3 separate regions of the Homo sapiens genome follow, and regions 1 and 2 are each linked to region 3. Evidence: fine-mapped expression QTL. A gene starts in region 3. Each other region holds a variant in brackets. All regions are shown on one strand. Distances are from middle to middle. Region 1 has its middle 31 kb from the start of KLHL2. Region 2 overlaps KLHL2 (kelch like family member 2). Region 3 holds the start of KLHL2 (kelch like family member 2).

The links.
Region 1: its variant is fine-mapped to the expression of KLHL2 in testis (GTEx, PIP 0.99).
Region 2: its variant is fine-mapped to the expression of KLHL2 in whole blood (TOPMed, PIP 0.97).

Annotation. Positions count from the first base shown.
Region 1 is chr4:165,175,374-165,178,137 of GRCh38, forward strand. No RefSeq gene overlaps it. Among named protein-coding and RNA genes, the nearest start is that of KLHL2, 31 kb to the right of the region's middle. The variant G/C (reference allele first, on the strand shown) is at 1,505.
Region 2 is chr4:165,276,579-165,279,313 of GRCh38, forward strand. The region is part of intron 5 of KLHL2 (kelch like family member 2); the gene reads left to right. It overlaps GK3 (glycerol kinase 3), which reads right to left. Exons shown (of 1, transcript NM_001395953.1): 1 at 1,229-2,735. The coding sequence ends at 1,406. Among named protein-coding and RNA genes, the nearest start is that of GK3, 1.8 kb to the right of the region's middle. The variant C/T (reference allele first, on the strand shown) is at 1,660.
Region 3 is chr4:165,206,149-165,208,912 of GRCh38, forward strand. KLHL2 (kelch like family member 2) reads left to right here and starts at 1,413. Exons shown (of 15, transcript NM_007246.4): 1 at 1,413-1,754. The coding sequence starts at 1,729. RefSeq lists an enhancer at 1,034-1,534 and a silencer at 1,065-1,714.

The sequences.
Region 1 (2,764 bases), 31 kb before region 3:
TTTCTGCGATTTTCGTCCCATCACCTGAGCAGTGTACACTGTACCAACTGATCATTAATTTTTAAATACACTGTTGGATTTAGATAGCTAACATTTTAGTTAGGTTTATAAGCAAAATAGGCCTATAATTTTTAAATCCTTGAATCTTCCTTACCTCATTTTGAAATCAAGAACTAATTTAGTCTCACAAAATCAGCCATTCATCTTTCTCTCTTTGTGCCAGCCAATTGCCTGTTTGCTTTCAGCTCCATTTCTGTCCTTCTGTGTGCCCTGCCAGTACCTGGTTCACAGTAGAGACTTCATAAATATTTGTTATGGGCTGGGTGCAGTGGCTCACGCCTGTAATCCCAGCAGTTTGGGAGGCCGAGGTGGGAGGATCACCTGAGGTCAGGAGTTTGAGACCAGCCCTGGCCAACATGGCAAAGCCCTGTGTCTACTAAAAATACAAAAATTAGCTGGATGTGATGGTGTGCCTGTAGTCTCAGCTACTCGGAAGGCTGAGGCAGTACAATTGCTTGAACCAAAAGGCGGAGGTTGCAGTCAGCTGATATTGTGCCATTGCACTCCAGCCAGGGTGACAAGAGTGAAACTCCGTCTCGAAAATAAATAAATAAATAAAATAAAATTTGTTACGGTGGGGAATGCCATCAAATCAAAAGCGGGTCAAGCTCGAGTTGGTTTGGGCAGCTGGCCAGCATTTCACTGACCTCATTCTTCTCGGCCTTGTTGCCTGTTCATCCATCATCTGTCATCTTGCCTCCAGATCACCAGCAAGAAAGGAAACTAACAGTTTCTGTGTATTGCCTTTTTGTTTTCTTGACTGTATCTTTTAAACATCAGAAGTTTTTAATTATGATGAACTCCAGTTTATTAATTTGTTTCTGTTTTGGTTTGCACCTTCTAAGTATTCTAAGAAATCTTTGCCTAACCTAAGATCATAAATATTTTTTTCTACATTTTCTTCCGGAAGTTTTAGCTTTTACATTAATTCAAGTTAATATTTGTTTATGGTGTATATGGTCTTTTTTCATATAGAGATTCAATTATGCCAATGCTGTTTGTTAAAAAGACCATGTTTTCTCAACTAAATGGCCTTGGCATTTTTGTTGATAATCAATTGACCGTATACATGTGGATGTATTTCTTTACTTTTTATTCTGTTCTATTCATCTATCTCTATATGTCTCTCCCCATTTCAATATCACATTCTCTTGATTACTGTAATATTAATAGTAAGTCTTGAAAGCAGGTAGGGTAAACCCTCTCACTTTCTCCTTCAAACCTAAGCTTTTGTAAGTAAAAGTTGATTATTAGGTAATTTGGGAAATAAGCACCCTTCTCTATATATGAGCCTCAAACCATCTCTGTTCTTTTCCCTACTACTGAGCTTCACTGAGTTCAATGAAGTTAGAAACGGATGAGGGGAGGGATGGTGAAGCTCCCATCCCTGTTAGTTGGCAGACCCAACCCAAAGCACAACCCCAATCTTCCCAGCCAGTACCCT[G/C]CGTATGTCCATGTGACCCATTTCTGATTAATAAGACATGATATTTCAGCTGTCACATCTGTCACACAAATATTTCCCTTATGAGAAAATCTTGGCAAGAAAGGGATCATAAGTCAGTATAAATTCATCCCTACTATAGGAAAGAATCTTAAAATTTACGTCTATTAATAGTAAATAAATAGTGACATCTTCATCCTTGAGGACATATTTTATAAAATTTTCCCCCTCTGTGATTCTTGTTCTTATAAGAAATGCTACCTTTTGTGTGATTGATTACCAGGAATTCTATGGTAATGAATTATAGACTTCAAGGGTATTGGATAAGGATATGTCTAGCCCTACATAAGTATCATTTTACTACTACTACCAGTAATATAGCCTGAAAGTAATGACAATATAGTTCTGGATTGTTTTTTAAAAAAAACAAGCATTCTTCATGTGATGATTGTTTCTCAAAGCAGTCCTGTAAGGCAGATACTGAGCTATCACAACAGTTAGATCATAAAGCCCCTTAAAATGATATTTCAAAAATTAAATCCAAGTTTCTCAAAGACATATGGCTGCATACACAGTGATTGCAGGTGAGGGCAAACACAGAGGTAGAATTTTTCCTGTGTAAGAATTAAAATCAGTGCTACTGTGCCCTACAGTATTATAATTTCCAAATTAGTCAGTGTTCATTAACACACCCTACTGAATTGGGAATTCAGTATTAAACACAGACTTGATTATGTTTTTCTAAAAGATCCCTAGACCAGACTCTGACTGATTGCCTGAAACAACATGATCTTTTAGACAACAACAACAAAAAGATAACTTGGGTTTTGACTGGTGACTTGCATGAGTTGGTGTGGTTTTTTAGGATTGCAGTGAGGAATAACTGTCTCAGGATGGTTTTGGAGTCTGACAACAGGAACTGCAGTCTTTTTTTAAATTATTATTATACTTTAAGTTTTAGGGTACATTGCAGCCTTCTTAAGAAGGGTGTGAAGCCTGGACAACACTTCCGTGGGTGAGAACACCTTTCCCTGACAAACAGGTCACTGTTCTCTTACACGGCTTCTTTTGCCTTTTGCATATCCTTCCTACCTATCCACCTCCCAACCCACTGCCAGCAGTTTTGTCATTACCTTTGTAGTCAGAAAGACACACAGAATCCACTGGACTTGTGCAAATGTATTTTAAGTTTATGTCTTCCAAAATGTAAAGCTCTTTGTTAGCAAAATTGTACAGATCAAGAATATTATTAGTCTGTCATTT
Region 2 (2,735 bases), 70 kb after region 3:
AAGCTAGATTAGGTGACTTCTTATAATATGTGACATTAAATATTTTGAGAAATTCTTGGTTTCCTTGGAAGGCATTTATAATGATAAACCTTTTTTCAGTTATAATAAGATACTAAGCAGAGATAATTTTGTCATCCCAGATAGCAATTTCTTATTCACAATTGATAACATTTGAACTGAAAGAGATTCCTGGCTTTATTTCTATATTTTTTTCTACTTAGGTATTTAACTTTTTTGACATCCTCTTATCCCCTCAATAGGATCCAAAATATGTCTAAAATTAATTCAAAAGAAAACTATTTGAATTATTGCTTGTGTTTGAAAACAGTATTTACTGTAGTATTCCACAGTTTCTTCTTTTTTTAGGCTAAGACAATTAAATAAAAATGTAAGGGATAAGAAATATAGTTGAAGTCACAATAAAGTATATTTTCTTTTATGGACATAAAACATAAATTTTAAATGTTGGCTGTTTAAGAAAAAAATTCTGGTAGATATTATGCATAACCATTGCCCAAAAATGTATACAGCTGTTTTCCAACATATTGATATACATAGTGGTTCACTTAAGACCAGCCCTGTTAGAACCTTCTGAATATAATGTGCTCTTAATTTATAAATGGGCTACCCTCAGTGTATAAAATATATAGGCATATATGTTATACATACAAAGTAAAAAATATAAAAAGGAAAGATGGAAGAAAAAAGAAAGTATCCTTTCCTATAAGATCTAGACAGAAAGTCATTATAATTAATGGGACCATGGAAAATATTGGAAGGATTTCAGTTTTGGCAAATACTTTTCAGAAAAATATCCAAGCTATGAGAACACTAAATGTCTATTTTAATAATTTAGTAGATATTTCTATTCAAACATTCAGTAAAGGTGTTTCCGTCTTCTACTATGTAGAAAAGAAGACTTTTGGGGTATCTGTTAAAAGCGAAGAGCTGCTCATTTTTAACAGGTTAGTAATAACCTTTTAATCAAGTATATGTCATGCAAAGACTCAAGTCCTGTTCCAGTAGTGTTTGAGTATGTTTGATGGAAGATTCCAATGGTGAGGATCTGAATTCTTCGTACATCTTAGAGGGAATGGAGCAGGATGTTATGGCAATGGAGGGGGTCAGCCCCAAAGGTAGCTGGCCCAACCTTAACTGTGGATGTTAAAAACACACACACACACACACACACACACACACACACACACCAAATATTTCTATAGCATTCTTTTTGCTGCATTTTCTTTATTTTAAGCCACAGGTCTACTTGGAGGGTCACGCAGCAAGTGGCTTATAAATAAAATCAAAGTCTATGAATAGTGTCATCGCATTAAGAGACAATTGCTGGGTTGTTCTTTCATTATGTAAAAAGCTCGCATCTTGGGAATCCATGAGTTGGTAGGTTTTATGGAATACCTGAGATGTACCTTGCTCCGATTAACATTGCCATGCTACTCACTATAAAAAAGCCCAAGGGCAGACTACAGAAGACACTAGGGTCACCACCTTCTGGAGATTGAGTTGTAACCCAACCCATTGACTTCATCACAGCTTTCTTCCATGTAGAATAACGAATTTCACTTTCCTCAGCATTAATCTGAGGTTCAAACCGCTCCATCGTGACGGCGGACAAATCCTCAGGTTCAAGACTCCATACGT[C/T]GACTCCTTCTGCAGCCCCTGCCGCCATGGCAGCACCCAGTGCAGTGGTTTCGGGCATCAAGGGCTTCACTACTGGAATATACAGAATGTCTGCTTGTAGCTGCATAAGAATTTTGTTGCTGGTCATTCCTCCATCAACCTGCAAATGACTGAGTGGAATTCCACAGTCTCGATTCATGGCATCCAAAATCTCTCGAGTTTGGAAACAAACAGCTTCTAATGCAGCAAAAGCAATATGGCATTTATTCGTGAATTGAGTGAGTCCACAGATTATCCCTCTTGCGCTGGGCTCCCAATAAGGTGCATATAACCCCGAAAATGCTGGGACGAAGTAGCAGCCATAAGAAGTACCTACTTCTTTAGCAAGTTTTTCAATTTCTTCTGAGGTCTTTATAATTCCAAGATTGTCTCTTAGCCAGCGAATAACAGCACCAGCTATAGCTACAGAACCTTCCAAAGCGTAATATACCGGTTTGTCTCTGCCAAGTTTGTAAGCCACTGTGGTGAGAAGGCCATGATCAGAAAATACACACTTATGGCCTGTATTACATAGTAAGAAACATCCTGTTCCATACGTATTTTTGGCTTGTCCAATCTGGAAGCACATTTGTCCCACCAGTGCAGCAGACTGGTCCCCTAAACACCCAGATATTGGCACACCTTCCAAGGCCCCCGCTTTCATTAGGCCATAGATCTCAGAAGAACTCCGAACATGTGGAAGAATTTCCATTGGAATTCCAAAAAATTCACAGAGTTGTTTATCCCATTCCAAAGAATGAATGTTGAAAAGCATAGTCCTACTTGCATTTGTTACATCTGTACAGTGGACACCTCCATTGACGCCTCCTGTCAAACTCCAAATAAGCCATGAATCAATAGTCCCAAAAAGAGCTCGTTTTTCTTCAACGGCCTTTTGAACTTTTCTCACATTGTCGAGGAGCCAGCGAAGTTTCACTGCACTGAAGTAAGTGCTAAGTGGAAGGCCTGTCTTGGACTTGACAAAGTTATTATTTCCTGGAATTCTTTTACTAAGACTCTCAACGGTAGACTGTGTTCTTAGATCAAGCCACACCACA
Region 3 (2,764 bases):
GCCTCAGCCTCCCGAGTAGCTGGAATTACAGGCATGCACCACCATGCCCGGCTAATTTTTTGTATTTTTAGTAGAGACGGGGTTTCTCCATGTTGGTCAGGCGGATCTCGAACTCCCGACCTCAGGTGATCGGCCCGCCTCGGCCTCCCAAAGTGCTGGGATTACAGGCGTGAGCCACGGCGCCCGACCTCTGTCCTTCTTTTTGTGGGATATTTTCAAACAAATCCCAGAAAAGTCATCCTTTTAATGATCAGATCAAGCTACTCACCACTTTCTAATTGCTTCTAATCTCAGTAAAAGCCAAGTCCTTTATCACGGCCTGCAAGGCCTGGGTGATCTGTGATTACTCCTCGCCACACCCATTCCTGCCGCCGTCCTCCTGACCTCACTCTGCTTCATTAGAGGGTCTCCCACCCTCGCGGCCCCAGCAAGCATCATCTGGAAAGCTTGTTAAAGCACACGCTGCTGGGCCCCACCCCCAGAGTTTCTGGTTCAGTAGGGCTAAAGTGGGACTGGAAAATTCGCATCTCTAACAAGTTCGCAGGTGCTACTGCTTCCAGCGGGCATACTTGGAGAACCACCAGCTGCACTGTTCTCCTTCCCGTTCCTCAACAAGGCAGGCAGGATCTTGCTTAGCAGTCTCCACGCTGCTCTTCCCTCTGCCCTAGGCATTCTTTGCATTACTCAAAGCCCCTGTTATTCCATCTCTTTAACTCATGCCTTTTGAGAGGCCTTCTCTGACCACTCTTTCTAAAATCTCTTTCCCTCTCCTCATCCTCATTTATGTTTCTTCATGGTAAGCATCACTTACTGTTTCCGTCACCCCGTCTAGATGGACAGCTCCACAAGCAGAAAGACTTGGTTTTGCTGTCACAGCCGCAGCACTAAAACCTTGCTTAGCAGGTGCTCACTTCACTTGTCCAAGGAATGGCTAGCATACTGAGGAGGGAGAGCCTGCTTCCTGCCTGGGACACTGGACAGGCAAATCACTTCTTCTTGCCTCAGTGCCACCCTTTGTAAGGACACTGGTTGGTTATGCCTACCCTTCCCATCTCCCTGGGTACAGGCACAAATGAAAAGAATAACGTGTACACGCCCGCGAAGCAGAGCAGCAAGTGGATACCGAGCATTATTACGCCGTGCGTTCGGCCGCCCTTTTTCTGCACGGAGAACCCCCTCCGCTCCCATTTTCCAGCGCCCCCGTCCCGGCGATCCAGAGACCCGCTGTGGGCGGCCGCCGCCCGCGTCCCGGCCTGCGGGCCAGCGTCTGGGCACGCCCGCCCCGCACCCGGCTGGCGCCCGCCCGCCCGCCTCCAGAAGCAGAAGCGGCAGCGGCAGCGGCAGCAGCAGCAGCAGGAGGAAGGGGAGGCGCCGAGGGAGGGGTACTCGGCCGCCGCGGGAGGCCGCATCGCAGTCCCGTCACAGCGTCGGCGCCGGCCGGGGCCGAACCCGGAAGTGGCCGAGCCCGCGCGCCCGCCGGTCCCGTCGCCGCCGCCCCGCACTCGGGCGAGCGCGGGAGCCGCGCAGTAGACGGAGCGCGCCCGGCCGAGCGGGCCATGGCCGCGGGGGCCGCCGCCGCAGGTGGTGGCGCGCGGTGAGGAGAGCGCGGCGCCCCCTCCGGGGCGGATGGAACGCGGCTCGGCGGGCGGGCAGTGCCGGCGTCCGCGGCTGGAATGGTGCTGGCTGTGTTGGTCGGTGCCTGCGTTCTGAAGCCCGAGAGGAGCCACAATGGAGACGCCGCCGCTGCCTCCCGCGTGAGTGAGCGGGCGGGCGGGCTGCGCCGCTGCGGATAAGCGCGCCGCTGCGGCGCGTGTCGCCGGCCGCGGGCGCAGCTCTGGGGACAGCCGCCGGGGCCGGCGGGAGGTGGGAGATGCGGGGCGTGACGAGGCGCTGTGCCCGCAGTCCTGAGCGGACGCGGACGGAAACTCAGCCTGGCCAGGCGGTGACTTAAAACGCTGCCCAGGATTTCTGGGGAAGGGTCTTCCCCATCTCGGGCGGATAGAAGATTCGGGGTGGGGCTGTGCATGGGTGACCCTGCAGGTCCTGTGTGTACCTCCCTGAAATGCATGGGCACCTGGTGCCGAGTTTGCCTACCCCTTTATAAGAGATCAGGCTAGGATGCACTGAGTCCGTTGAAAAAAGGAAACTGGAAAGTACCAGTCACCCGCTGTCTAAATGAATTGATCTTAGGTTGCTTGATTCCCCGAATTTCTAACAAAATTAATATCTGAGGAGCTTTTGCATCACTCTAAATGAGCGGCGGCCGTTCAGGGCATGTGACCTCTTTTACCTGGCACTGCAGAACGTTTTATCCAGAAATCAGCATCTTCTGTTTCGTTCGTACCTCGGGCAAATTAGTAGCGTATCGACCTGCCAGGCACAGGTGTCTTTTTTCTTTGGTACCCAAGTACATTCAAGATCACTGGCAACAGAATTACTTTCTAGAAATAATAGCTGAAACATTATGTAGAAGACATTATTGCATTATTCAGAACAAGGGTTTTTTTTTTAAATTTTAGTTTTTAGTTTTAAAAACATCTTGGTAAAAGTGAACTGTAAATACCCAGGAGTTTCGAAAATTTCAATTTTGGTTCCCTCTTCTCTTAGGAAGGAACAAGAGTCCTTTGAATCTGACTTTTCAAATCGCAGACAAACCTCATCCTGAAGAATGGTTTACCTTTTCATGAGAGCTTATTCATGGAGGCTTGTCGTTCTCCGGTCAAATTTGGCAAGCTTCACTCCATGCCGATTGTACCGCACCAGT